Linked DNA regions of Homo sapiens: regions 1, 2, 3, 4, 5 and 7 are each linked to region 6. The links come from fine-mapping of genetic effects on gene expression. A gene starts in region 6. Each other region holds a variant in brackets. All regions are shown on one strand. Distances are between the middles of the regions.

Region 1 (4,066 bases), 29 kb before region 6:
CAGGAGGTTCACTTGAGGCCAGGAGTTCGAGACCAGTGTGGGTAACATAGTGAGACCCACCCTACCCCCGTCTCTACAAAAAAATTTAAACATTAGCAGGGTGTGGTGGCACGTGCTTGTAGTCCCAGCTACTTGGAAAGCTAAGGCTGGAGGATCGCTTAAGCCCAGGAGTTCGAAGCTGCAGTGAGCCATAATCGTGCACCACTCACTGCACTCCAGCCTGGGTGACAGGGCAAGACCCTGTCTCAGAAAAAAAAAAAGAAACTATGTTTGGATATATATTGGGTTATATGAAACATATTCATGAAATTAATTCCACCTGTTTTTTTTTAAATGTGGCTACTAGAAAATTTAAACTAGGTTGGGCGCAGTGGCTCATGTCTGTAATCCCAGCACTTTGGGAGGCTGAGGCAGGTGGATCACTTCAGGTCAGGAGTTCGAGATCAGCCTGGCCAACATGGTAAAACCCCGTCTCTATAAAAATATAAAAATTAGCTGGGCGTGGTGGTGCATGCCTGTAATCCTAGCTGCTCGGAAGGCCAAGGCAGGAGAATCGCTTAAACCTGGGAGGTGGAGGTTGCAGTGAGCCGACATCGCTCACTACAATTTTATTTCTATCACTTTCTCCTTGGATTTCAATTAGATTTCAAAATTCCCATTAATTCATAGACTTAGGAACCGCAGAGTAATATATCCAATGTTATTCAACTAAGCCTTCTAAGATTAGATCTCTGATTTTGGAAACATTATTCTATCAAATTGTTCCCTTGGTTTTCTCATCTATAAAATAGGACTGACAACATACTATGTAGTTATTGAGAGAACTAAATAAGATGTACTACAGGACAGCTTAATGGCACTGTTAGGGACTTGCTAGATCAGTCACCCAGCAATGTAACTACTTCTATACTATTTCCTCTCAAAGTGCAACATTCACATTCAGACCTAATAAAATGATAATTAGGTCATAAACTTTCAGGGTCACTTCAGACCAAAAATCTCAGAAGTTACTTTCCAAAGTCAGTCGATGACAATGATTTAAAATTATATGAAACTTCAAACTCAAATGTTAGTCTACCACAGTGTTTGTTACTTGTTACTTAAAATAATCCAGCCAAGTATACAAAATTGTCATTTTCAGATGAAGAAAAAGCCTTAGAAGTTAAGTGAGGAGGATATCCAGATTCACACAAATATTAATATTGCCAGAAAACTTCATTTTAATCATTGGATTTTAAAAATAAGCCACAAATCCCATAAGAACTCAACCACTGGGAGGGGGAACAAAGAAATCTGACAGAACTAGAGAAGACTGGGAATTTTAATTTAAGTTCTCAAAAAAAAAAGTTATCTCAATCATTAGAACACAAAGTATAAACCCCATTTATTTAAAATAAGAGCATATTTATACTTTAAAATTAAATCTGTAGTCTCCACAAAATATCTTTCAAAAACTCAAATCCAAAAAGGTTCTGAAGATTTTTAGTGCCATTGGTTTGTGTTATAGCTAATGCCAGTATTGTGCCTATTAATAAGAGACCAAATAAAAAGCAAAAATAAAACAGATCATTTAATTATAATTTAATTTATCTAATGAAGACCAGCAATTATAAAACTTCACACACACCTAACTTCAGTTGTTATACAAAATCATAATCATTTGTACCTTTCTAAGAAGAAACACTGTGTTCAGAGCTTATGTTATGATTAATGAACAGTGACAGCAGCTAAAATTCATATAGCCACTATATTTTCATTTTGTGGCAAATAGCTATCAACAACTTACTGTATGATTTAATTAAGTGGTTAAAAGGATCTAGCTTCAAGTTTATGCTCTAAGTAAAATGTTTTTCAAAGATGGGCAGTAAACAGTATTTTCCCCCTGTGGAAAAGCAGTTTTTCATTCTTCCAAAAATTGTACCAAGGTAAAGCAAAGCTCTAGATGATGCAGGCATGTTATGTAGGCGTTAGCAGTACTGCCCTCACTATGTGCTCATTGGACAGTAGTGCAACCCCAAGAAAAAGATGGTTAGCAGTTTTTGTTGTTGTTGTT[GTTGTTGTTA/A]ACGAAATAAAACAAAAAACAGCTCATTGCTAGTAAGGAAACTATTTTGTGAAACTTTCTTCTTTTTATGTGTGCATATACTAAGTCACAATGTAAATGTATTTCTTAGAATGAGTCTCAGAAAGGTTTGATAGCCACTGCAAAGTAGTCTGTCTATAGCAAACTACTATACATTCAATAACTAGAGAGGTGTTGCAGGAATCAGACTGTACCAAGGTAAAAATCCTTTTTGACTGTGAGAGGATAAGAAGCATATTTAAGGCATGGGCCTAAAGCTGACAGGATTATCCAACTCTACCACTCAGTTTACTAATTAGACAACAAACTTACCCAAGGTCATTCTTCTATAGTTTGCATTAGAACTAAGTCTCCCACTCTAACGCTCAAAATAAGCTCCACAAAGATACTTCAGCATGTAAGTATTAATTCAGAATTTCCTATTTGGTTTTCAATAACCAAAAGAAACTGCAGCTTAACACATGCAACTGTTTCCTCAAATACTATTCTACCAGATTAATGACCATGCCAGCTCTCCCATTAAAAGCTTTTTCTAGCTAGTTACTTGGTACTTAGGTTTTTATAGCACTTTTCTTTTCCCATTATGCTCAGTAGTGCATGCAACACACTACACTTAGGAATGCAACACACTTCCTTTGGGAATGCCTAACTGTGGCCATAACTATGACTGAAATTTTTGTGAATTTCTATCATCTGTCTAAACTTAGAAGAAAAGTACCACAAAATAAAGTTAAATCAGACCATATTTTTGTGATCAGTGTATCTCACTATTAAAACATTGTATGTATTTTAACGGTTATCATTCAAAACTTGAAGTATATCCAAAATACTCCATTCCCATCTCCTGATAAATAAATCTTCACTGACAACTGATTAAGAAGAGAAACATGTTAAGGACAGAAGTTAAAACGGAATTAGACAAAGATGGGGCAGATTATCACAGCTTCATACTACAAACAAAGGTTTATTTCTACATCCTCTTTCCTAAATATCCATAATAAACTCATATTTCTTGCCAAGAACCCCAGAAAAGGTGCCTCAAATTATTTCCATAAAGAAAACAACATTACCCATTAAGCAACTCTGTTAATGATTATCCACAAAATTCCAAATTTTAAAAAATTGCTTAACATTGGGAATGGCAGAGGTACTGAGCCTTATTATGACTAATCAAGCCAGTGAAGTAAACAAAAAATGCAGGCAAGAGAAAAAGGAAGCTGAGTCAAGTACAGAGTTCTTCGCATCCACAGAGAAAATGCTTTGTTCTTTATTTCTCAAACTTGCAGTATAAAGACCAAAAAAATCCATTATTTTAATTTCACAGTCCAGTCAATTCACACGGCTGTATGTGAATTTTTCTTTCAGAAAATTAAGGGAAAGGAGCCAGGCGCGGTGGCTCACGCCTGTAATCCCAGCACTTTGGGAGGGTGAGGCAGGTGGATCACTTGAGGTCAAGAATTCAAGACCAGCCTGGCCAACATGGCGAAACCCTGTCTCTACTAAAAATACAAAGATTAGCCAGGTGCGGCGCGCACCTGTAATTCCAGCTACTCAGGAGGCTGAGACAGGAGAATCACTTGAACTCAGGAGGCAGAGGTTGCAGTGAGCCCAGATCGTGCCACTGCACTCCAGCCCGGGCTACAAAGTGAAACTATGTCTCAAAAAAAAAAAAGAAAAAAAAAAAACAGAAAAGAAAAGAAAGAAAAGAAAGGCAAAGAAAATTAAGGGAAAGGGAATTTATAGTGTGTCTGTGCATTTTAATATTATAGTCACAGCAACATAACCATATTACTTTCCCAACAGGGAATTCGAAATCTGAAGGCAAATACCACTCACATGTCAAATAAAATAACTGCCAAAAATTTACTCACTAATTTTTCTAAAATTTTATGAAAATGAGTACATTATTCAACTGTTTTGGAGAAAAGCAGACAATATGATTTAGAAAAAACACATAATTAGTGGCAATTTTAACAGAAGAGAATG
Region 2 (4,066 bases), 130 kb before region 6:
GGGCATATAAAGACCACATTCTTGAAATGAAGTAGTAGACTGGTTCCAACAGAAGAGACAGGACTCTACAATACTACTTTATTGTCGGTTATCTTCACCTAGAGATGATTTAAATAGGAGGAACACAATTTCTTCCTAGCCAATCTTAAATGGAAAAATGCAAAAATTCTTCCACATAACAGTCATATCATGAAATGCTAATTTTCCCAGTCTAAACCCCGAAGCTTTTTGTTGATACCATGTTGGCTATTCTATTTATTCTACCCATATATGTAAAAGTTGCCAGGTGTACTATTAACCACATCTAGCATTCAATCAGCTTACAGTGAATACTGAGAGAACCATTTTTCTCTGAAGAAGTGTCTTGAGAAAAATGGATCAGGAATCACTGAACATCATTATCCAATCCTTTCTCAGAATTTTACTATTTTGCTTCTCTAGTTGACATGTTATTGCTAGTTATTCTGACACTCAACTATTAGATTTCCATGTTCCTGATGATCTACTAGGATCAAACTCTGTGGTGCCCTCTTTTGCTAACTAACACAATACCTGGTACAGAACATCTCCAGAGGAAAGTGGAACCTCAGCAGCTTGTCCAAGGTTAGCTGGTATTCCCATGGACTGAACTGCTGGTTGTAGGAGCTGTGGGTGAACCTGACTTGGCAGCTGAGTCACAGGCTGCAGAAGGGTTGGAAGCTGACTAGGAACCACAGTTGATACCCCCGGGATCGCAGCTGTTGTAGCAGATGAAGCCAACGTGAGCAGAGGCTGAGTAATGCCAGCTGCCATTGTGATGGGAAGGGATGAGAAACCTGTCTGAGCCGTAGACACATGAGGAGTTGATATGGGAATCTGAGAGACAGGGTACTGAGGGAGCAAGGGAGTAGGGAGCGGCTGTCCCACTGGAAGGAAATGAGCACCAGAGTGGACTGGAACAACCGAGGGTTGTGTCGCAACTGGGATCTGAGGTTCGCCTTGGATAGTTGGTACTGGCTGGGAAACTGGAAGCTGGGAAGGTAAAGAAAAACAAAACAGACAGGCTTAAAAAAAAAAAAAAAAAAAAAAAAGCAAGGCTGCCAAAAGCAAGATTTATGTATTAGCCAAAAAGAAGGAAAAAACAAACAAAAAAAAAAACACCAAACCAACAAAACCCTGCATACATTAGTGTTAAGTTAATATGCCACATAAGAATATGGAAAGGAGAGCAGGAGAGAAAGAGGCTAAATAGACTATTACTGTTCTACACCTTTTGTCATAGAAATATTTGCTAATGCTTCAGCATTTGGCAATAGAAGAGGACCCTTCCATAGACAAGGGGTTGGCTTTTTTTTTTAACAGCTTTATTGGAATATATTTTATATACCATAATGCTATCACTAAAGTTACGACTGCTGTTACAGTAGTTACTGAAATTCAAATGAATTCCTTCCCAGTGGAATTAAGATTTCATTCGTATTATTTCTAAAATTCTTAAGTCCAACATGGCTCAATAAAAATTGGTATAATTCACATATTTCACTCATTCTAGGATGCAATCATCCCTCTCCACTACCTGATCATTTTAACATGTGAGAAATTGGGATCTACTTTATAACTGATAATGTGGTACATAAAATATGGTACATTTTAAAGTTGATAGCATCTCAGATGTGATGAAATATTAGGGTAACAATACACTGTGCACATACATGCACAACAGTACTCAAAAATAAAGTTGAAAAAAGGTCATTCAGAAAAGCATACCTTCTACAGGGTACTTCTCAAGTGATTAGGAGGACTACTTAAGAAAAAAAAACATTCCACACAGTAAACAGTGCAGAAATCTACATGAAAATAAAGCATAGTTTCAAACCTAGAATATCAGACATAGCTGACACAATTCTAGGGAATGTCATAGGTTCAGTTACCAGAGCACCTTTATTTAACCTGTTATTTCTAATACCTGTTACATCAATTTTGGACTGGTAAGACTAGAAGTGAAACTTTGGATTGTCACTGCTGTCAGTAACGTACCCATTTACATTAAATAATGCATATGCACCAATGAGGTGATCTTCACTTCATTTCTGCAATGAGATTAACCTACTTCAAGGGTTGGTTACCCTTAGAAGAAAAGGTAGAAGTCTATCCACATGAAAGGACAAGTTACATGGAAATCCCTTTTAGCACCCTTTCAGAAATTAAGAGTTTACCTGTTTAAAAAAAAAAAAAAAGTTTACCTGTTTTCCAGCTGATACTTGAGGCAAGACTTGTGGAGCTTGAGG[C/T]TGACTCACTGGCTGTGCAGTAGTGGCCTCACTGGAGGTTGATGTCTGTGAAAGTGAATACTGCACTGTCTGTTGAGGAGGGGCTGTCTGCTGTATTCCCTGCTGCTAAGAATAAAATACAATGATTCAGTTTTATTTCAAATCAATAACAGCATGTTTCTAAGGAAGCATGTTTACCTAAAGCCTTCAGTGTCTGTAAATAATGATGATTTTAGTAATCAAGACATGCACAAACCCAAATTCATCAATTTCCATTATATATTTGTTTTCCCTCTGATGTTCTTTGTGATGGTGCCACCAGGAAAAATTAACCAATCTTTTAATACTCAAGTTACCATTGGCTCTTCACCCAATTATCTCCCTCACCCCAACAATAGGTCTTTACAAAGACATTTACATAACATATCCAGACAGTTCCTTTCCCCATCCCATCCCTGCCATTCCCTTTTCCCTATCTCTTGGCATCAGCTCTCTCTTTGGCACCTATATCAGATAGATCCAATAGCTTCCTTTAATCTTTTTTCCTTACCCTATTTTATCAACTGTATAATTAATATGCTTGAAGAATAGCTTTGATTATAGCTACAAAATAGGGAGGAAAGCACTGGATTTGGAATAACAGACATTTTCAAATTTTAGCTTTAATATTTACTAGCTGTTAATGCCTTAGATTGCTTATTTTATTAAAAAAATGAAGTTTCTCTTTTTGAAACAAGGACATTATTTTTTAACTCAAAGTGGGGCAAAGGGAATGACACCTGGGAATCTACTATGTACTAGGGACTCAAGTATAATTTAATGCATGGTGCGTAATTATACACCTAATTTAATGCATGGAACATAACTGTACTCGAATACTAAATTCTGTAATAAATCAAGCAAACAAAACCAAACAAAACAGGACTATGACCCCTAGAGTACTGCCCCTTCTGTCTAACAAATAAAAACTTGAGGCTGGGCGCGGTGGCTCACGCCTGTAATCCCAGCACTTTGGGAGGCTGAGGTGGGCAGATCACCTGCGGTCCAGAGTTCAAGACCAGCCTGACCAACATGGAGAAACCCCATCGCTACTAAAATTGCAAAAAATTAGCCGGGCGTGGTGGCACATATCTATAATCCCAGCTACTCAGGAGGCTGAGGCAGGAAAATTGCTTGAACCTGGGAGGCGGAGGTTGCAGTGAGCCGAGATTGCACCATTGCACTCCAGCATGGGCAACAAGATCGAAACTCTGTCTCCAAAAAAAAAAAAAAAAAAAAAAAAAAATGAAGTTTAGGGCTGACTTTCAAGATCTTCTAATACCTAATTTATATTTTTTCTTTAATACAACATCTGCTTGTAATAAAAATTTTAACTAGTACATCATATTATAAAGTTAATGAAAATACCCCTAATCCTATTCTCCAGAGGTAACCACTATTAGTCGTTTGGTGCATAACCTTCATGGATTTTTTTCTATGCGTAAGTGGCCATTTTCACATAGTTTTCTTTTTTTGTTAAAATAAACAAAACAAAAACATGCCTTTCCTATACATAGTGTTCTATAGCATACTACTTTAATTTCTAAATGGCATCAGTCTCCTAATGATAAACACTTTGGTTGTTTCATTTTTGCTACTTAAAATAATGCTGCAACCAACAGCCTTTTACGTATGTGCTGGTATACCCATACGACTAATTGGTTACTGCTGGTATAAAGATAAGCTATTTATTTGTACATTTATTATGTATCTTGCCACCTTGATAAGTGTCTTAGATTTTGTTAGGTGATAATCTACAAATAATATTTTTGCTCTTCTTA
Region 3 (4,066 bases), 67 kb after region 6:
TCCCTTTTGGAATTCAGGAAAAGCTGACCAGCATTAACATTAACACAGATCTTAAGTCTTGTTAGTCTAAAAAGAAACATTTGTAATCTATTCTCTCTGAAGCCTGCTGCTTGGACGATAAAGTCTTGGTCTCCACAACCCCTTATTGTAACCTAGACATTTCTTTCTATTGATAATAACTCTTCAACCAATTGCCAATCAGAAAATGTTAAAATCTACCTATAACCTGGAAGCCCCCTGTTTTGAGATGTCCCACCCTTCCAGATCAAACCGATGTAAATCATACATGTATTGATTGAGGTCTCATATCTCCCTAAAATGTATAAAAGCAAGCTGTATCCTAACCACCTGGGGTGAGACTGTGTCATGGGTGCATTCTTAACCTTGGCAAAATATACTTTTTAAATTGAATGAGATTTTCTTTCTTTTTTTTTTTTTTTTGAGACTGAGTCTCACTCTGTTGCCCAGGCTGGAGTGCAGTGGTGCGATCTCGGCTCACTGCAACCTCCGCCTCCTGGGTTCAAGCAGTTTTCCTGCCTCAGCCTCCTGAGTAGCTGGGATTACAGGTGCGCACCACCATGCCCGGCTAATTTTTGTATTTTTAGTATAGTTTCACCATGTTGGTCAGGCTGGTCTCGAACTCCTGACCTCATGATCCACCCACCTCGGCCTCCCAAAGTGCTGGGATTACAGGCCTGAGCCACTGCGACTGGCTTGAATGAGATTTTCTCAGATACTTTTGGGTTTGCACACCAAAGGCTGTCCTCACACCTTTTGAATCTCTCTTGAAGATTCATCTCCTAAGAAACCAGACCTTGCTAATCCTCGCCTGGCTTTAATCATCTCATTTATTCCAAGATCCACTTTATCCTCCAGGCATAGAATTATAGACCGTAGGATCCCAGAAATTTCTGGCTTAGAAAGTCATTTCGATTTTTACAGATATGGACCACAACTAGCCAAGTGATTAGTCTAAGATCACTACGTGAATGATCTTAACTCACGTAGTTAAGGGACAAAGACAAGTCTAGAACCCAAGTCTTTGAGTCCTTAGCTCAAGATTATTTTCACTACGTGGAGATCTATTATTTGTGCTCCTTTTCTCTATCTGTATTCTTATGTTTTTTCAGGAGACCCATCCTTCTCAATTCTTTTATTGCTGTTACCATCATCTTTAGCATCATAATCAACATCATCACTTCAGCTGTTCCCAGAGCCCCCCTACATGGTGCCAGTGGGTACTCTATAACCATTCCTGATAGCACAGCTTCTTAACCCTTTTTCTCTATGCCAAATGATTACATGTTTATCGCCCTGTAAGTATCAATCGTCTTCAAGACTCAAGGTGACCAAAGTTGGTAGAATGAAAGAAGCATTGTTACTGATGCAGGAAACCCAATGCTTTATTTCAAATGTCAAAATACAACTTGCCGTACTGAAAGAGCAGGAAAGCTGGGACTATAGTGGCCACAGTATCAGGGAAGTTGACCCAGCTCTTGCCCATTAGAAATCATAGGAACCATTGAGTGTGAGGATGCTGGATTTCAGAAGGACCTGTTAATTGCTTACACCGTGACCTACCCTAGCTATAATGCACTGTGCAGCAGTGAACTCCTGACTCTAGCTGGGCCAATCTGACTTGCTAATGGCAGCTTAGAATTGAGGCCTGGAAGCACTGGGCCTTGTCCGGTAGGGGCTAGAATTGTGAAGTGATGGCCGGGCATGGTGGCTCACACCTGTAATCCCAGCACTTTGGGAGGCCGAGGCGGGCAGATCACGACGTCAGGAGATCGAGACCATCCTGGCTAACACAGTGAAACCCCATCTCTACTAAAAATACAAAAATTAGCCGGGCGTGGTGGTGGGTGCCTGTAGTCCCAGCTACTCAGGAGGCTGAGGCAGGAGAATGGCGTGAACCCGGGAGGCGGAGCTTGCAGTGAGCCAAGAT[C/T]GCACCACTGCACTCCAGACTGGGTGACAGAGAAAGACTCTGTCTCAAAAAAAAAAAAAAAAAAAAAAAAGAAGTGATGTAAGGCTAGGGCCAGATGGTCATGCCTGGTGAAGCTCAGAAAGAGAGAATGAAGGAGAACCTCAGAGAAGCAGAGATGAGAGACCCCAAAAAACAAAGAGCAGTCATGGGTCCTGACTCCCACTCCAGCTCCCATCTTTTGGTGGTCTGTACAAAACCCAGTATCTACAAAAACCCTTCTTTCTTTTTTCTGCTTGACTTGAACTAGTTGAGTGGGTTGCTTTTGCAACCAAGAAGTCTTAACTAAGACCTTCCCCTTCTCTACAGAGCTGAAAGATGAACCAGGCAGCTGTGCACAGTTGGAAGGTCAGGGAGAGGGTTGCCAAGAATTTAAAGATATTGTTTCCTTCTCTGTAGGAGATGGTGCTTGTCAGTCTGTGATTTTCTGTGAATCAGATCTCACAATCACAGACATGCCTCTCTGCCCCCACCTCCCCACCGCAGATAAACATAGCAACCGTTGCCAACCTTCAGCCTTCACTCAACTTCATTTCCTCTCTTGCACTTGAGCCTAGAGGAGTCAGAAACAAGCTCAAAGGCTTGTTGATGTGAGTCTGCCAGGCATGGTGGTACACGCCTGTAATCCCAGCTACTCAGGAGGCTGAGGCAGGAGGATCTCTTGAGCCCAGGAGTTCAAGGCTGCAATGAGCTATGATCACGCCACTGCACTCCAGCCTGGGTGACAGAGTGAGAGTCAAAACAAAACAAAATAAAACAAACAAAAAGCCTGGTTAAGGTGAATCTAACTGGGCTTTGGCTTACCTTCTCTTTTTTGGGAGGTAGAAGGTTTTTGGAAGGTAGAAGGATGTATTGCAATGATTCCCCAGCTTCATTCACTAGCACACCACCTTCATGATTTTTGACGTGTCCACATATCAGTTGTACTATTATTTTCTTAATTAGACTTTCTTATTTTCTTATCTTCACCTATGATATTTTTTAATGGAACCATGGCTTTGCAATACATATGATGTTTTTTCAAATATACATTAAAATGCAAAACTATTAAAATAATTTTTTTTTTACCACCTAAGATTATTTTATGTGTACTACCTTAGGAAACAATGTCATGTAGGCTTTGGAATCAGGCAGGCTTGTTCAGGTAATACCTGTATGTCCTTGGGCAAGCCACACTCTCTAACCTCCAATATTGTCATAATAAGTGTGTCTTCCTTAGGATTTTGGTGAGGGCTAGATGGGTCAGTTTGTGTGTGTGTGTCTGTGTGTGTGTTGCGTGTCTGTGTGTGTAGATGTGGGTCTCACTGTGTTGCTCAGGCTGGTCTCAAACTTCTGGGCTCAAATGATCCTCCTGCCTCGGCCTTCCAAGTGCTGGAATCACAGACGTAAGCCACTGCACCCAGCCCTAGATGGGATGATTTAAACACTGTGTTTCAACTGCCTTGCACGTGGGTAACACCTAGTAAGTACTCAGTCACTGTTAACCATTGCTGTTCCTGCATTCTCTATTTCTGCACTTTGTCTGCTTCTCTGTATTTCCTTTCTTTCCTTTTTGGTCTGTTTGCAGCAGGAACCAGCATGGAATGGGTTTGCTTACTGGAGCATATGAAATGTATGTAAAGCCCTCAGGGACCAGGACAGAAAGCTAAGTGTGGTGCCTCTGCGGGGTCCGGGTGTGTATAATAGAATCTAATGATGTGACTTGTTATCCCATCGTGCTTGTGTGGTTGAGATAATAACATTGTTTCTATAGAACCTGCTTTAAAGGGTCAAAGCCCTCATGGACATTATCTAGCTCATCTCTCTTAAGTGTGGACAAGTGTTATCGTCCTCGTTTTTCAGGTGGAGAAATCAAGACCCCAACAGAGGGCTGACCAGGTTACTCAGCAATGCTGTGGCAGAAACACACAAAAGAGTCCGTGGCTTGTGATTCACAGGCCAAGACGCTGCCTTGGCGCAGCACTCCCCGTGTTGACGTGGAAGGTGGTGATGGCAGTGAGCAAAAAAGTGATCCATGCACAGATGCATTTGTGAACGCCGGATGAAACAAAGTTAAAATAGGTGGGTTTTTTTTTTCTGTAG
Region 4 (4,066 bases), 55 kb after region 6:
CTTCTACCTTCACATAGCAACTTTTTTTTTTTTTTTTTTTTGAGACGGAGTCTCACTGTGTCACCCAGGCTGGAGCGCAGTAGCGTGATCTCGGCTCACTGCAGCCTCTGCCTCCTGGATTCAAGTGATTCTTCTGCCTCAGCCTCCTGAGCAGCTGGGATTACAGGCGCCCACCTCCATGCCCAGCTAATTTTTATATTTTTAGTAGAGACGGAGTTTCACCATGTTGGTCAGGCTGGTCTTGAACTCTTGACCTCAGGTGATCCACCCACCTTGGCCTCCCAAAGTGCTAGGATTACAGGTGTGAGCCACCACTCCCAGCCCACATAGCAACATTTTTTTAAAAAATCATTGTTTAAATTATCGAAATGGGGCCTCACTCTGTCACCCAGGCTGGAGTGCAGTCCCATAACCAGAGCTCACTGCAGCCTCAAATTCCTGGGCTCCAGCAGTCTTCCTGCCTGAGCCTCCCACGTAGCTAGGACTACAGACATGTGTCACCACACCTGGCTAATTTTATTTATTTATTTATTTATTTGAGACAGGGTCTTGCTCTGTCACCCAGGCTGAAGTGCAGTGGTACAATCATAGCTCACTGTAGCCTCGAACTCCTAGGCTCAAGCAATCCTGCCTTCTCAGCCTCCCAAGTATCTGGGACTACAGACATGTGCCACCATGCCTGGCTAATTTTTTTATTTTTTGTAGAGACAGTCTCACCAGCCCAGGCTGGTCTTAAACTCCTGGCCTCAAGTGATCCTCCCTCCTTAGCCTCCCAAAGTGCTGGGATTATAGGCGTGAGGCACTAGGTGCCCATCCCACATAGCAACTTCTGTGCTCTTTTAGCCTGAGGAACTAAGAATTCCTTTCAGTTGGCTTACTAGGGCCTTAAAGACTTAATTTGAAAAATGGGTGATTACAGTATACTACCACCCATTCCTCCAGCTCTCCCTGGTTGTTGCTGAAGGAGAATTCAGGTCTCAATTTACCAGCCCTTTATCTTGAGCCATGCAGTCAATTAAAATCAAAATTGAGGCCAGGGAGTTGTGTTCAGAGATTGTAATTCTGTGTACTGGAAGGATCTTTTCTTTGAAATTGACTATTCCGGCTCCTCCCTATGTTTGTAGTTCTTTGGCTGCATGCACTAACTGTCTTCCTGACTTTCTCTGCTGGAGTCAACCTTGCAGACCTGCTATTACTACCAGTGTGTAAAGTTGTGTTAGAAATGCTTGTTCCCTGGTGCTGTAAAGAAATAGCACTTAACATAAATTTAATTTTCTCAGCAAGGCCATTTTCACTTTCTGCAGAAAGGGTACACTCGCCAGCAGTTTTGCCACGAGAGTACACTGAACAAAGGAGACAGGGTCATTTATAATCTGATGCGTCCACCCTACTGCTGTGTCGGTTTCCATTGGCTGGAACAGGACCTCACATTCTGTATTTGTCCCAGTTGGCTAGCAACTTAGAACTTTTTAAGAGAGGCAAAGGCAGAAGAGGACAAAGGAAGGAGGAAGTAACTTGTGGAATGCTGAGAAAGGTAAAAACACCTTCAAATAAGGAA[G/A]AAGAACAGGCTATGACCTAATGCTTGCTTGGACCAGTAGAAGCATGGCAGGGCAAATATTTAGGCTAAATTGTGGGAACTAAGAACATAAAGTACATTGATTTCTTTATTATGGCTAGAGATATTTAAGAATATTAACACAGGTCTTTGAATAAATTTTGCTTCTAAGAGAAGTTACTATTTATTCCTAATTAGATGGGGAGGAAAGTCTTTGAAGAGGAACCTCTACTTTGCTTTTTACAATTGTTTCTTCTAATCTCAACTAGTTTCCCCTGAGGATTGGTAATGTCCAGTAGTGGCTAACCAACATTTACAAAGAGGAAGAGAGGGCTGTAACTTTGGAATTTTAATGGTAAAAACCAAAGGGATTTTAATGGTAAAAACCAATTGCCCTGTTCTAAGCCAGGGAAATTCCTTAACACAGGTTTCAAGATACCTCACCAGCTTTCCCCAGCCTTCCTCTCGCTCCAGCCCACCTTAATTTTTTTTATACTTCAGCTTAGACTGCTTCAGCTAGACAAACCTGATTGCCATTTCCTTTCCCATGCAACTTCCTTCTCTGAAAAATAGAGCTGGAGGAAGTTGAGACGCAGAAAAGAGAAACAAGTTACCCACACCACATTTTGGTCCAGGTTTCCTTCTCCAGCATCACACTTCTATTCCTACTTGAAAAAAGAAAAATAGCTCAGAGGGGTCTCTAAGTCACCCTCCCCACAACCACCTATATCCCCCAAACCCCACCTCCATGCCCCGGATGCAATTGTTTAAAGGGATTTTGTTCTTTATTTTCTTCCCTATAGTTTCCTGACTAGCTGCCTCACCCATTATCTTCATGTTCCTGGGATGTGTGATACAAATAACAATGTATAGCCAATCAATATCTTAGGTTATTTTTATGTAAATTCTTGGTAAATAGTTTAGGAACTGCCTTTTTCTTTTCCTTTAAAAGAAGGAAAAGGCTACTACCACTTGTACCTGTTAGAAGAAATAAAGTTCCAGAAAAAGAAAAGAAAAAAGAAAAACCCACTTGTAGGCAGGTGCAGTGACTCCCACCTGTATTCCCAGCACTTTGGGAGGCTGAGGGGGGTGGACCACTTGAGCCTAGGAGTTTGAGACCAGCCTGGGTGACATGGTGAAAGCCCCATCTCTATCAAAAATACAAAACTTAGCCAGTCTCATAACCCAGTCAATAAATAAATAACTAGATTAAAAAAAAAACACAACTGCTGCTACTGGGAGGATAGATTCAGGGCAACTTGAATCTATGCTTCTGGGTTGCAGTCCTCAAACTTGGCCCAGGTAAACTCTCCACTCAGAATGTATTTTCCTTTAGGTCGATATAGCTGGCGTAAGTCAGCAGGATTCAGAGTGAATCCCCCACAGCAACCACCCATTGTTTTTCTCTGAAGGCAGTGGTTGGTACTAGCACAAACCCATTGCGTTCTCCATCTTCAGAAGTCTCATTGGTGTTGCGGGTGAGTTCTCCTGAATCCAGACTCCCGTTTCTTTGGTGGAGGTCTAGACTTTGAGCGGTTTCTCTTTGACTCTCTCTGAATGAGGGTTCTGTCTCTGACTTTCCTGTTTAAGTCAGGAGATCAGGATATTTTTCTGGCAACTCACAGGTCTGGAGTTAGCAGTTTGCTTCCATTTTCGGCCAAGACATTGTTACATCATGACCTTTCATTTTGGAAATCAAACTTTTATGCATGACCAACCTCTCTTAGATTCCCTTTTTCTAATATATGAGAGTGGATTCTTCACTCCAAAGATAAAAGGCACTCGCTCCCTCCAGCCCGTTAGGGCACCCTAAACAATTAGCGACTTGCTGGGGGTATTGGGACTTTCGTGCCTTAAAAGGTTTCCTCTCTCAGGAGAACATCCGTAATCTCTCTCACTCTGCCAACAAGTGCACATAAAGGCTGGCCACTTAGCACTCGTGAGGACTTTGTGACCCTCTGGGGATCAATGTTTCTGAGACACATAAAAACGTGGACACAACTCAGTAGTGACACACTAAGGAGTCACACTCACAAGCAGCACATTTTGACCCAAAACACAGCCCAGAACTTGGCTGTGAGTGATTCAGGCCTCTAAATTATGGGTAACAAACCTATTCAAGTCTGAAGACTCTCTAACGACGCAGCCTCCCTTGGAAACATCGGCTGATATTCTGTATAACACTTACGGAGCTTTGTCTTGCAGACATTTGAACAAATGGGCCCACAGGACTTCAGATGACCCTAAATTACAATAGCCAAAACGGAGGTCCTTTGATAGATCAGAAAAAAAAAAAAAAGCTATTTTAGAACCAAACAGAATGGGAGACCTACTTTCTACTTGTCCTGGCTGAAATCTGATAAAAGATTTGAAAAGATTTTTTTAAAGAGCTCTATGGTTAGAAATCAGCTTAATTAAAAGCTGATATTCAGGGCATAATTTTTATTGACAAAAAGGGCCTTTCTGCTTTTTCTCCCTGGGATCCCGTTTCTGGGAATTCTTTTTCAGTCA
Region 5 (4,066 bases), 180 kb before region 6:
TATTGCATAGGGATTCTTTTTTTTTTTTTTTCCTGAAATGGAGTCTCGCTCTGTCGCCCAGGCTGGAGTGCAGGGTGTGATCTCAGATCACTGCAACCTCCGCCTCCTGGGTTCAAGCAATTCTTTGCCTCAGCCTCCCGAGTAGCTGGGATTACAGGCGCCTGCCACCATGCCCAGCTAATTTTTTTGGATTTTTAGTAGAGAGGGGGTTTCACCATGTTAGCCAGGATGGTCTCCATCTCCTGACCTTGTGATCCACCCACCTCGGCCTCCCAAAGTGCTGGGATTACAGGCATGAGCCACTGTGCCTGGCCGCATAAGGATTCTTTATGTGATTTTTCAGTAGAGGCTCTTGCCTTTTACTTTAAACATTCTTTGAGGGTTGTTTTTTTTTTCCGCTTTTTATTTATATAGAGGTCAACCAGAATCAAGATGTCTGGGACTGAGGAAGCAATTCTTGGAGGACGTGACAGCCATCCTGCTGCTGGCGGCGGCTCAGTGTTATGCTTTGGACAGGTAACTGTGGTTCCTTCATGCCGGGAAAGAATGAGGTGAAGTGAGTAAAGTTAGGGCAAGGCAGTTTGTAGAGCATCGTAGTACATGTGTGAGCAGTACCTAGTACGTTTACCTAGTACGTGTGTGAGCAGTACCTAGTACGTTTACCTAGTACGTGTGTGAGCAGTACCTAGTACGTTGACGCGGTGCGTGCGGGGGCAGTACCTAGTACGTTTACATAGTACATGTGTGAGCTATTTGTTATTGGTTTTTCCTTTAGATGCATTTTTTGGGAGTCTTGTGAACTCTGGAGGGCATTTTGGAATGTTAGCTATCAAAAGACTGATAGTACTGGGGATTAGATTTAGATTTTAAATTTTTTGTGGGGGGGGATAGATAACATATTTGTATGACATCAAATTCAAAATGAAACTGTGAAAATCTCCCTATTTCCTATTGCCCCTGTGTGCATGCCACCCAGTTCTATTTCTTTTTTTTTTCGAGACTGAGTCTTGCTTTGTCACCCAGGCTGCAGTGCAGTGGTGCGATCTCAGCTCACTGCAACTTCCACCCTCTGGATTCAAGCAATTCTCCTGCCTCAGCCTCCCAAGTAGCTGGGATAACAGGCATGCACCACCATGGCCAGCTAATTTTTATATTTTTAGTAGAGATGGGGTTTAACCATGTTGGCCAGGCTGGTCTCGAACTCCTGACCTCAGGTGATCCGCCTGCCTCGGCCTCCCAAAGTGTTTGGATTACAGGCGTGAGCCACCACGCCCGGGCTTAATTTTTTTGTATTTTTAGTAGAGATGTGGTTTCACCATGTTGGCCAGGGTAGTCTTGAACTCCTGACCTCGTGATCTGCCTGCCTCGGCCTCCTAAATGCTGGAATTACAGGCATGAGCCACCGCGCCTGGCTCCAGTTGTCTTTCTTGGAGGCATGGAAAGTTACTGGGGGTCCTATTCCTTGTAGGGACATTGTGTGCACAGAAAAGAGTTTCTTGCTTTGTCCACCCAAACTCCATCTTTGTCTTTAGCAGAGAGTTGTGAGTATTCATCTCATCTGAGCAGGGCAAGGGGGACAAAACCCAAATCAGCAAGCAGTAGTGTGTTTCTGTTTGTGCAGGATGGGAAATTGTTGTATTGGAGAAGGCGTCAATCTCTGGAAAGGACAAATGGAAGCAAGGCTTCCTACCCCCGTGCTCTTTCCGTACTTGCTTCCTGTGCTGACGTCATTTACAGATCTGGAGGCAGAACATTTTAGCTTCCTAAGCTTCAGAAACATTTATAAGGATGGTAGCAGCAGCTAAGGCAGCAGTTCTCAAAATGCAGTTCTCAAAAACCCTGGGGTTTCTGAAGATCTTTCAGAGTCCAGAAGGTCAAAATTATCTTCATAATAATACTATTTGCCTCTTTCACACTCATTGTCTCATGAGTGAATGGTAGAGTTTTCAGAGAGTGCATGATATGTGGTGATGTCACTGCTATGATGCCTAATGGCATGCATGCCTTAAAAGTTTCTCAGTTTTGATTCCTAATAGGATACATAGAACCCACATAAACAAAGGTTCTGGGGGGTCTTTTTAAGAGTATAAAGTCTCCATAAAGGATGGAGACTCAATGATGTGAGGAATGGTGGAAGTGTGAATTTAATTTTCTTTTTTGGGGTTGCAGTGCCAGTACACAGCAGAAGAGTACCAGGCCATCCAGAAGGCCCTGAGGCAGAGGCTGGGCCCAGAATACATAAGTAGCCGCATGGCTGGCGGAGGCCAGAAGGTAGGAGAATTCATGTGCCTGGAAAGCAGGCATCCATACCGCAGACTCCGATGGTCTTGCCAGTTCCCTCTCTGGGTCCTCAGGGATT[C/T]GGAAGTCTGCTGTTAACTGTTCCTGGAGGTCTCCCAGTGCCCCTGGGAGGGGATGGGTTCCAGACTTCATTCTCATCCGAAGGGGCCTGGGCATGGTCTTGACACTCGCATAACCGCCGTCTTAAGATTTTTACATCATCTTTTTTTTTTTTTATTTTTAAAGACAGGGTCTTGCTCTGTCACCTAGGCTGGAGTCCGACCAGTGGTGTCATCTCAGCTCACTGCAGCCTCCACCTCCCAGGCTCAAGCGATCCTCCTGCCTCAGCTTCCTGACTAGCTGGGACTACAGGCACACGCCACCACACCTGGTTAATTTTTTAATGTTCTGTAGAGACGACATCTCGCCATGTTGCCCAGGCTGATCTCGAACTGCTGGGCTCAAGTGATCCTCCCACCTCGGCCTCCCAAAGTGCTGGGATTACAGGTGTGGGCCACCATGCCCAGCCTTTACACCATTAAAAAAAAAATGTTCCTTTTGCCATTTGCTTTTTTTTTTTAATTAAACACTTTTTAAAGAACTTATGATTGACACATAATAATTGCATATCATTTGCTTCTAATTTTAACTTCTGTGTATATTTTTGGTCTTCCATAAAATATGTCAAACAGATTTGTACTTTTTGCAAACTGAATTTTAGCAACTGCTGGGTGAGTTCCTCCTCCCAACAGACCATTCGTTCTCGCGGGCTCCATCTAGAAGATTTTTGAAATAAATTCATTGAGAATTTTCTTGAAAAAAAAATTTTTTTTAACAGACTGGTTCTCACTCTGTCACTTAGGCTGGAGTGCAGTGGCACGATCCTAGCTTACTGCAGCCTTGAGCTCCTGGGCTCAAGTGATCCTCCCACCTCAGCCTCCCGAGAAGAATGTTTAAGGACAGTTTATCGAAAAAAGTAGATGAGGAATAAATTATGTCAATTTTGATTCACATTTAAGTGTGGTAAGGAATTAACACAGCTTTTCCTTAAAAACATTTGTTTTTCTAGGTGTGCTACATTGAGGGTCATCGGGTAATTAATCTGGCCAATGAGATGTTTGGTTACAATGGCTGGGCACACTCCATCACGCAGCAGAATGTGGGTGAGTATGCTCTCCAGCAGTGGGGACTTCTGCACTGTCCAGCTCCTGCTGAAAGTCTGCTGTGGGTGAGGAGGTAAGGTAGGTGGACTCAGCTGCCAGCAGGAGGAATGGTTGTGGCCCAGCGGTCAGTGTCCTCTTCAACTTGCTCTCTTTCCCACTCCTAGATTTTGTTGACCTCAACAATGGCAAGTTCTACGTGGGAGTCTGTGCATTTGTGAGGGTCCAGCTGAAGGTGAGGGGATGGAGTAGACCTGCTGCCCGGAAGGATCAGTGGGTGGTAGGAGAAGGTGAGCAGGTAGGGAAGTAGGTAGCTGGACGGGGACCCAGGCTCCAGAGTTGTGTCTCAGCCAGCGTTCCCTAGAGTGGTGGAATTCAAATACTCTTGCTCATGTGCTCCCTAAAAGAATGGAAAAACTGTTCTCTTGCACATGTTCAAGCTGACACCTAAAAGTTTTCACCATATATAAAAATTGTTGCAAAGGATGTATTTTTTGGCATATGGTAAAATCTGACATTTTAAAATACAATAATTTTACCATCACTGATAAGTGTTTGGAAACTCAACTTTAGGCAAAGCAGGTCCTTTTGTTATAACATTGATGAAAACAAAAATATGTTTTGTTAAT
Region 6 (4,066 bases):
GAAGAAGCATCTGTACTTTCAACTTCCCCACTCATTCCAAGTTTCCTGCCAGACTCTAAACCAGGAGACAATTCGTTTGTACTAAGATGACCTTCACCACCGCTGCCCGGTAGCAAATCCCTCTGGCTACCAATAATTCTTATCCTATCCCAACACCTAGGCACATGCTCCACATTCTCCTAATTTCAGCCCCTTTCAAAAGTTGGCCTCCCCGTCCCACTCGGAGTCCAACAGAGAATGCCAAGTGAAGGGTGAACTCGATCAACTGGCTTCGCCGAGCCAAATTTGGGATCCAAAGGACCGTCAAATAAAGTAGGTGGGGCTTTACCTGCAGTTCACACCAGGCGACTTCCACGGTGGTTTCAGTGTCCAGACCTTTGTAGACCGTCTTAAAGGAGCCTCTGCCGATTTCGATGTCAAACTTGAGAAAGCGGCCATCGTTAGACATTCCCACGGCCTTGGTCTCCAGCTCTTCGATATCATCCTGCTGCTGGCTCCGTTCCTCCTGTGGCTCCTTGGCGCTGCCGCCGCCGCTGCCACTTCTCGCCGGCGGCGGCTCCTCTTTGCTCCCCACAAGGCTAGGCTGGGACACTGGGCGGTCTTTGCTGGTACTGCTGGGGACAGTCGAGGGGGCAGGGCCCGCGACGGCCTGTTCCCCAGGGGCGGCAGCGGCTGGAGGCTGCTGGGCTACCTGGGAAGTGGCGGTGGCGGTCACGGTCTCTTCCCGGTGGGGCTCCGGTGGAGCACTCTGCGGGACAGCCGCGGGGATGCTGGGCTGGGGCAGGGAAAGAGGAAGGCCGGGAAGCTCCAGTGCAGTGGCATTGGAGTCACAGATGACGCTCCGGCGGAAGAAGCGGTGCTCAGTGGTGGTAGTGGTCGCGGCCGCCCCACGGCTGTCCTTGTCCATAGTGTGGCGGCGGCGCCTGTACTCCTCGGTCCTGCCGGTCACAGCGTCGGCGGCCGCGGCTCCCAGTTTCTCCCCCACGGAGGAATCGGAGCTGGAGCCATTCTTGGGGGCAGGAGCCGGCGGCGAGAGGAACAGGGAACCGGGAGTGCTGCTCTGCTTCTCTGCGGCGCCGCCAGACATGGTCGGTTCGCTGGAGAGAGGCGAGCGGGCTCGGATTCGTGAACGAAAAGGGCGTGAAGGGCCGAGCCGCCCGCGCAGAGGTCTGCAGGGAACCGCGGCCGGGCGGGTTCGCGCCGACCCGGACGACGCCTCACTCAGCACCGACAAGCCGCAACGAGGGACAGGCGGACCGCTGGGCCCAGCTGCGGCGGGGGCTGGCACCGAGGCTGCTGCGGCTCACGAGGAGGGCTCGAAGGCGGGCGATTCGGGAGCTGAGCCACGGGGGTTAGCGCCGCACGGTCCGCATCCATCCTGCGGCGAGCGGCGGCCGGGCGGGCGGTGGCAGCAGAGGCGCCGCAGTCATGAGGGGAGGGCCAGGGGCCGGCACCGAGTCGAGGCGGATGCGGCGGACGCGGCTCCCACTGCCGCCGCTCGCCGAGCTGGGCGGGCTAGGCCCAGAGGGCGGCGGCACCGCGAGCACGGGACCAGGTCCGACGCCCGGGCGGTGGCGGCCCCGGGGCAGAGGAGTGGGAGGGGCCGAGGCGGGCGAGGGAAGGCCGCGGCCCGGCTCCCGGTCACTCGGGCGGCCGCCTCCTCCCACACGCGCCCCCAGCGATGGGGACCGGCCTCACAGGTCGCCCATCGCCCAGAGGCGAAGGGCCGGAGCCTCGGAGCCTCGGCGCCTGAGGAGCGGGCCCCCCCTTCCCCGAGGCCTCCCCGCCCGCCCCAGGCCTGGCAAACCCGTCTCCTCCCGGGCCGGTGCCGGGGGCTGACGGAGGAGGGAACGGCGGGGAGGGGAGGGCCGCTCACCGCGGGGCCCGAGCTCCGCTGCTTCTCTGAGGCAAGAGGAGAGGAGACCTAGAGGACTGGGTGAGGGGGAACAGGGAGAGAAAAGAGCAGCCACCCCCACCAGGCGCCTTCTGTCACCGAAGATGGGGGTGCGGAGTGGCCGAGAGAGGAGCCGCGTCCACCCGGGAAACTCTCCGCGCTAAATGGCGCCGGGAGTCTGAAGCCTCCACACAGCCCGCTCGGATCCCGCCCCCCGCCGCCCGGAGCAGCCCCACCCCCCAACTCGCTCCGGGGCTTTTGCGCAGGCGTGCTAGCCCCGAGGCACCCTGGGACTTATAGTTTACGGGTTGGCGGGGATGAACGGGACCTAGAAGAAAAGTGCCTACGACTTCCGTGATGCCTTGCGGTTGCTGTAGCCTAATGCCTCGTGGGAGTTGTAGTTTTCTTTGGAAACCGTCCCTTCTGAAAGGCTGATGGGAGCGTCATCACGGGTCGCTCAACCCCATCCCGAAGTCCGCGCGAGCTTAGGAAAATCATTATTTAGGGATTAATTGTGGAAGAAGGAAAGGAAGGAAAAAAAAAAAAAAAAGAAGAGGAACGAGCGGGCGGGGGGTGGGGGGGGGGATGGAAAGACTCCCATCATGCTCTGCTAAGCTAGAGAGCTCTTAGGGTTGCCATGCAATGAAAAATGATCTGTTGTTCATCTTTAATGGAGAGAGCCTCAGTAGTGTTGAGTGACTGCAGGGCTGTGAGGGTGGAAGGGAAGGGCAAAGCAGGATAACCGGAGCCTGAGCTCTGAGTCGGAGGAGGGGAAAAGAAACTTTGTGAAGATTGTGCATGAAATTAATATTGATTAAACGGATTGGAGGAGGAGACACGGAGGATTACCTTCCATCCTCCTCCCCTCATCAATTAAGGCCACATTCTCAGCTCCCGGCCGAGACGGATATTCTGGCTCTCAAAAAAGGGCTGCCTTACTGAAATCGGGGATCCTAGTGAACTCTATCTTTGCTTTGTCTGAAAAATAATAAAAGGGGGGTTGGGGGAGCGGTGGATTCAAGAAAAGATAAGGTCTACGGATCTATGGGTCTTTGACCACACTTGGGGGGCTGGGCTGACTTCTGCCTTTGTAGTTGGTTGAAACTTATTTTCCACCTTTCTTCTGCTGGTGGCTTCGTGAAACAACACCCCCTCTTTCTCTAGAGCTCCTGAATGTCCACATGCAATGTCTACAAAGGCTCTGGGCCCGGGAAATGTGGATCCATGCGGCTTGCCGCCATGGAATGTTTTTCTTGAAAGCATCCTTGTCTGCCTGGACCCCTGTGCTCTTCGCAACTACTCAAGATGTGGAGGGGACGAGCACCAGGGGGCACCAGACCGAGTAGGAAGCCGGACTCGGGAGCAGACTGCAGTTTAAAAGCCTCAGTCCAACCGGTGGAGAGCGGGAAGCGCTGAAAACGTACGCAACCGCATCAGAGCGTCCGGACGCGGCCGCCTCTCTTCAGCGCCCGCTGCGGAACAAGCTCGAAAGCGCGCGTCGGGGCCGAGGACCACGCTGCGAGCGAGCAGCTAGCAAGGAACTCGGCAGGAGGTTCCTTAGCACAGTTATCGGATGAGCTCCACCTACAGAAGTCTTGCCCTGCAGTTCATGTTAATTCATCTGATACGTAAAATACTTAACCCTATTTTTCTTTTCTTTCTTTTTTTGTTGTTTATCACAAGCTACACTTTCAAGTTTACAAAAATGTTTTAAACCAATGATCGTTAGGTTTCATGAAGCTGACAGGTTACGAACATTTTAAAATGCCGATTCAGCAGGGACAACTAGAGTACTAAAATATTAGTGTTCCATTGCTTTAGAAAATGTATCTTTCATTCGTTTGCTATTGGTAATGGTAAATAATCTCATTATGGCAAATGGAATTAAGAGTGTTTTTCTAACCGTAAACCTAATGTAAGCAAGGGAAGAAATGGCTGTAAAATACATTTTTATTGTACTTTTGAGTAAAATAAAACTTACCCAATTGTTGCTTCACTAGGAAAAATAGTCTGATTTTAAACATAAGGCAGCTAATTACAAATTGGCAAGTTAAAAGAAGATCAGTAAATCACAATGTTCCCTTTTGGCACCATGAAAAAATTAGGATATTTTTGTGTGAGTGGTTGTTAAAGGATTTTATTATTGCCTGTTCCTGTTTACTGAGCCCTGAA
Region 7 (4,066 bases), 180 kb after region 6:
GGTTGTAGCAGGGCAAGCCGCAGACAACACCCCTCAGGCACCGAGTTAAAGAAAGAAGGGCTTTATTCGGCCAGGAGCTTTGGCAAGATTCACATCTCCAACAACCGAGCTCCCCGAGTGAGCAATTCCTGTCCCTTTTAAGGGCTCACAACTTTTAAGGGGGTCCGCGTGAGAGGGTCATGATTGATTGAGTAATCAGGGGGTACGTGACCGGGGGCTGCATGCACCGGTAATTAGAACGGAACAGAACAGGACAGGGATCTTCACAGTGCTTTTCTTATACAAATAACTGATTACGTCAGGGGTCGATCTTTAACTACCAGGCCCAGGGTATGGGGCCGGGCTGTCTGCTCGTGGATTTCATTTCTGCCTTTTAGTTTTTACTTCTTCTTTATTTGGAGGCAGAAATTGGGCATAAGACAATGTGAGGGATGGTCTCCTCCCTTAGGGTGACAGAGGGAGATCCTGTCTTAAAAAAAAATAAAAATAAAAGGGTGATCTCGGGGCCTGGTGCAGTGGCTCACGCCTGTAATCCCAACAGTTTGGGAGGCTGAGGTGGGAGAATCGCTTGAACTCAGGAGTTTGAGACTTAGCCTGGCCGACATGGTGAGACCCCATCTCTACAAAAATTTAAAAATTTTTCATTTCTAGTGAGTTTTCAGGTGATGTTGCTGCTGCTACTTCAAGGAGCACACATGGAGAACCACTGGCATATAGGAGAAAAACGCAGGCTTAGGATTTAGACACTGGGGCCATCCCTCAGTATCTGGTGACTTTGGGCATTTGACCTCTTTGAGCCTCAACTTCTTCACTTGTAGAATGGGACTACATCCCAGTTACTTGGGAGGCTGAGGCAGGAGAATTGCTTGAATCCAGGAGGTGGAGGTTGCAGTGAGCCAAGATCGTGCCAAAATATTTATATATATATATGTATATATATATATGAGACTAGTGTTGCTTCTCAACTTATGATAGAGCTACATTCTGATAAACCCATAGTAAGTTGAAAATATTGTAAGTCAAAATGCATTTAATACACTTAGCCTACTGAACTTCATAGTTTAGCCTAGCTTAACTTCAGCGTGCTCAGCCCACTTACACCAGCCTACTGCTGGGCAACATCATCTAACACAAAGCCTACTTTATAAGAGACTATTGAATATCTTGTGTAATTTATTGAATAATGTACTGAAAGTGAAAAAGAGAGTGGTTGTATGGCTACTCGAAGGACAGTTTGTAAAGTGTATCACTTACGATGGTGCGAAAGCTGGGGACCATCTGTATTAATACCTGCTTTGTGGAGTCATGCCTGACATACAGCAATATCATTATTTAATTATTACTGTTTAAATTTTAACAATTTTGTTAGCCCCTGAGGGATGAGTAGGATTGAAGTCAGCAGAGATCGGCTGGGAGGGCTTTGGGGAATGTCTCTGAGAACCTCACAGCTCAAGTGGGCATAGAGCAAAGAGCAAAAGGCCAGATGGGTCTGGAAGCCCCAGGACAAGGCGCTGATTGGGAAAGTGCTCTTGTTTAGGGTGGATATTGAGAGGGAGCAGATCGATTCTTTGGAAATTTCTGTGTGGTAGGTAAATCCACGATTAACTCTGAACCCCGAGATGACAACAGTCTTTTCTGAAAGCCACTGGCAAAACGGCCTCTTGCAGGGGAGGTGGAAAATGCTCCCTGAGAAAGAGCACGGAGGCCGGGGTGGCGGCTCGCGCCTGCAGCCCCGGCACTTTGGGAGACTGAAGCAGGAGGGTCGCTTGAGCCCCGAGGTTGAGGCTGCAGTGAGCTATGACGGGGCCACCACCCCGCAGCCTGGGCGACAGAGCAAGGGCCTGCCCCAAGAAAACAGTAATAACTAAAATAAATAAGCAAGCAAGCAGGCCCGAGTTCCGGTTTCAACGCACGTGCTTTCCTGTTCTTCCCTACACACTCTGCTTCCGTTTGTAATTTATGGCCCCCTTTTGTTGGAGAGAAACCCGTCCGTGTCCTCGATCACAAAGGGGTCAAAGCCCGGGTGTGCCCGCGCGGGCGGGTTGAGCTGGGGCCTCGCCGCGCCGTTTCCTGGCGCCCCCTGGTGGACAACGGCGGCGCCGCAGGCC[T/C]TCCGGGGAGGCCTCGCCCCACGTGGCCTCTCGGTGCTGCAGCTTTAGGCCCCAGTTTGCAGCTCGGGGCAAGGGCTGGAACTCTCAGTGAGACTGTGCCCAGGGCTCAGAGGCGGTTTCTGGACCAGTTACGTATTATTGCTGGAATAACACGCAAAAGAAACCCCACCCCGACGTGGATTAGAGACTGTTGATTTTTAAGGGCGAGATCACTGCTCTTGGCTGCAGTCAGGAGCCTGCATGCGGCCTGCCCCAGACAGAAGGCCTCAGGGGTCTGGGCTTTTACAGCTTTTGGCCTGAAGACCAGCTGCAGCTTCCAGCCCCAGTCATTCATTCCCTGAGGCTCCCTCAGGACTGCTGAGAAAAGGCAGGATCTAGGGGAAAAAGGGCTCTCCCTGCAGTGGGGGTGTTTAAGAGCAAAGATTCACTCCCCAAACTCCTCTCCCCCACCCAGAAGCCACTGTGCCTGAAGCCCCACCCTTAAAGAGCCTTACTTTTGCCTTTTTTGAAAAAGCTGTCTCATAAAAATTCAATGCGATCATCATTCATTGTGTACCTCATGTGGGCAAGGTGCTGAGCTAGGCTCCATGGAGACTCAGGCCTGTGGAAGATGGGGTCCGTGTGCTAAAGTGGGCAGCAGAAGGAGCCGTCTCAGGAGGACTCAACAACGCCCAAGGCCAGCACAGGCCAGGGAGCAGGCGACCTTCTTTCAAACAGGGCCTTGGTGGAGTGCATTTGGGGACAGGGTCTAGAAAGGAGGGGAGGCTCTCCCTGGGGGGAGCATGGTGAAGAAAGAAAGGCCTGTAGTCCTGGAGCAGAGCAGGAGCAGCTGGGAAGGGTGGGGTGTGTTCAGGGAACAGTGAGTAATCTGGTGTGGCCCTGCACGTCTGAGCATCACAGAGCCTGGCACAGGGCACAGGGTTCGCTCTTCAGGGGTGGGAGGAGGAGCTGGGGACCAGGCTAGAGAGGTGGGTGGGGGCCCCAGGAGAGAGGACTACGCTTGAGTAACAATGACCCTGGAGACCCAATGCAGGTGGGCTTGTGTGAGTGTTTCCCTTCCTGCAGGCGGCTCGAAGGCGAGAGCCAGCAGGAGCGAGGAGAGAGGCTGCCCAATGGGTACAGGAGGCATTTCAAACACCATGGAAGTTGTTAGGACCATAAATGGTGCCTACTTCAAAACTGGGGCTGGGACGGGCCCTGAGTCACAACACAGTATTTGAAATGCCTCTAGGCCCACACGTGGGAGTATAATCCTCTGTGGGATAGATTTCCCTCTCATCTCATATTTGTTTAATACTTCACAGCTTTCAAAGCACATTCACCCACATGATCCTATTGATCTTTCTAACAGCACTTTGTGCTAGACAGGGCAGATATTATTCCCACTTCAGAGGAGGACCAGCTAGGGTCTGGGTGAGATGAAGTCATAAATTCACTTTTGTTTTAACATGTTTATCTTAACCACTGGCCTTCTGGGGGTATGTCTTGGTCTGTTTTGTGTTGCTATAACAGAATAACTGAGACTGGGTGATTTATAAACAATAGAAGTGTATTTGGCTCATGGTTCTGGAGACTGGCAAGTCCAAGAACATTGCACTGGCATCTGGTGAGGGCCTTCATGCCACATCCTTCCCTGGTAGAAGGTGGCAGGGCCAGAGAGCTTGCAAGCCCAAGAGAGAGGAAGGGAGCCAAGCTCACCTTTTTTTTTTTTTTAATCCTGAGATAACCTGACCCACTGCCATGATAATGGCATAAATGAGGGCAGAGCCCTCGTGACCCAATTGCCTCTTAAAGTTCCCACTTCTCAACACTATTACAGCAGGGATTAAGTTTCCAACCCATAAACTTTAGGGGGCACATTCAGACCATAGCAGAGTGCATATTTGCTTTTGTTACAAATTTATTATTGTTATTATTATTATTTTTTTTGAGATGGAGTCTCGCTCTGTCACCCTGGC

Alleles and levels. Positions count from the first base shown, and alleles are read on the strand shown. Sizes are in standard deviations (SD) of each study's normalised expression. Not every link is listed here.
For the expression in monocytes of the gene that starts at base 2,074 in region 6, GTTGTTGTTA is the low allele of the variant in region 1 and A is the other (large effect, 0.80 SD a copy in Quach 2016).

What was found.
Region 1: its variant is fine-mapped to the expression of WNK1 in monocytes (Quach 2016, PIP 0.95).
Region 2: its variant is fine-mapped to the expression of WNK1 in whole blood (INTERVAL, PIP 0.94).
Region 3: its variant is fine-mapped to the expression of WNK1 in whole blood (TOPMed, PIP above 0.99).
Region 4: its variant is fine-mapped to the expression of WNK1 in whole blood (TOPMed, PIP above 0.99).
Region 5: its variant is fine-mapped to the expression of WNK1 in whole blood (TOPMed, PIP above 0.99).
Region 7: its variant is fine-mapped to the expression of WNK1 in whole blood (TOPMed, PIP above 0.99).

What each region holds. Positions count from the first base shown.
Region 1 is chr12:779,097-783,162 of GRCh38, reverse strand. The region is part of intron 1 of WNK1 (WNK lysine deficient protein kinase 1); the gene reads right to left. It also overlaps the pseudogene RNU4ATAC16P. Among named protein-coding and RNA genes, the nearest start is that of WNK1, 29 kb to the right of the region's middle. The variant GTTGTTGTTA/A (reference allele first, on the strand shown) is at 2,054.
Region 2 is chr12:876,518-880,583 of GRCh38, reverse strand. It overlaps WNK1 (WNK lysine deficient protein kinase 1), which reads right to left. Exons shown (of 28, transcript NM_018979.4): 10 at 2,223-2,372; 11 at 553-1,011. Among named protein-coding and RNA genes, the nearest start is that of RAD52, 71 kb to the left of the region's middle. The variant C/T (reference allele first, on the strand shown) is at 2,268.
Region 3 is chr12:683,974-688,039 of GRCh38, reverse strand. It overlaps LINC02455 (long intergenic non-protein coding RNA 2455), which reads left to right. Exons shown (of 4, transcript NR_187480.1): 2 at 3,827-4,045. Among named protein-coding and RNA genes, the nearest start is that of NINJ2, 23 kb to the right of the region's middle. RefSeq lists enhancers at 2,236-2,325, 2,596-2,715. The variant C/T (reference allele first, on the strand shown) is at 1,949.
Region 4 is chr12:695,659-699,724 of GRCh38, reverse strand. All of the region lies in intron 1 of LINC02455 (long intergenic non-protein coding RNA 2455), which reads left to right. All of the region lies in intron 1 of LOC101929432 (a long non-coding RNA gene), which reads right to left. Among named protein-coding and RNA genes, the nearest start is that of LINC02455, 19 kb to the left of the region's middle. The variant G/A (reference allele first, on the strand shown) is at 1,559.
Region 5 is chr12:929,425-933,490 of GRCh38, reverse strand. It overlaps RAD52 (RAD52 DNA repair protein), which reads left to right. Exons shown (of 12, transcript NM_134424.4): 2 at 415-516; 3 at 2,170-2,271; 4 at 3,347-3,440; 5 at 3,605-3,672. The coding sequence starts at 433. LOC124902855 (a long non-coding RNA gene) reads right to left here and starts at 2,178. Exons shown (of 2, transcript XR_007063155.1): 1 at 686-2,178; 2 at 1-650. The variant C/T (reference allele first, on the strand shown) is at 2,360.
Region 6 is chr12:750,587-754,652 of GRCh38, reverse strand. It overlaps WNK1 (WNK lysine deficient protein kinase 1), which reads right to left and starts at 2,074. Exons shown (of 28, transcript NM_018979.4): 1 at 329-2,074. The coding sequence starts at 1,087. RefSeq lists enhancers at 624-1,342, 1,343-2,061, 2,819-2,868, 2,919-3,018 and silencers at 1,179-1,558, 1,569-1,948, 2,029-2,178.
Region 7 is chr12:574,295-578,360 of GRCh38, reverse strand. All of the region lies in intron 1 of NINJ2 (ninjurin 2), which reads left to right. Among named protein-coding and RNA genes, the nearest start is that of NINJ2-AS1, 55 kb to the left of the region's middle. RefSeq lists a silencer at 1,967-2,236 and an enhancer at 1,765-2,266. The variant T/C (reference allele first, on the strand shown) is at 2,109.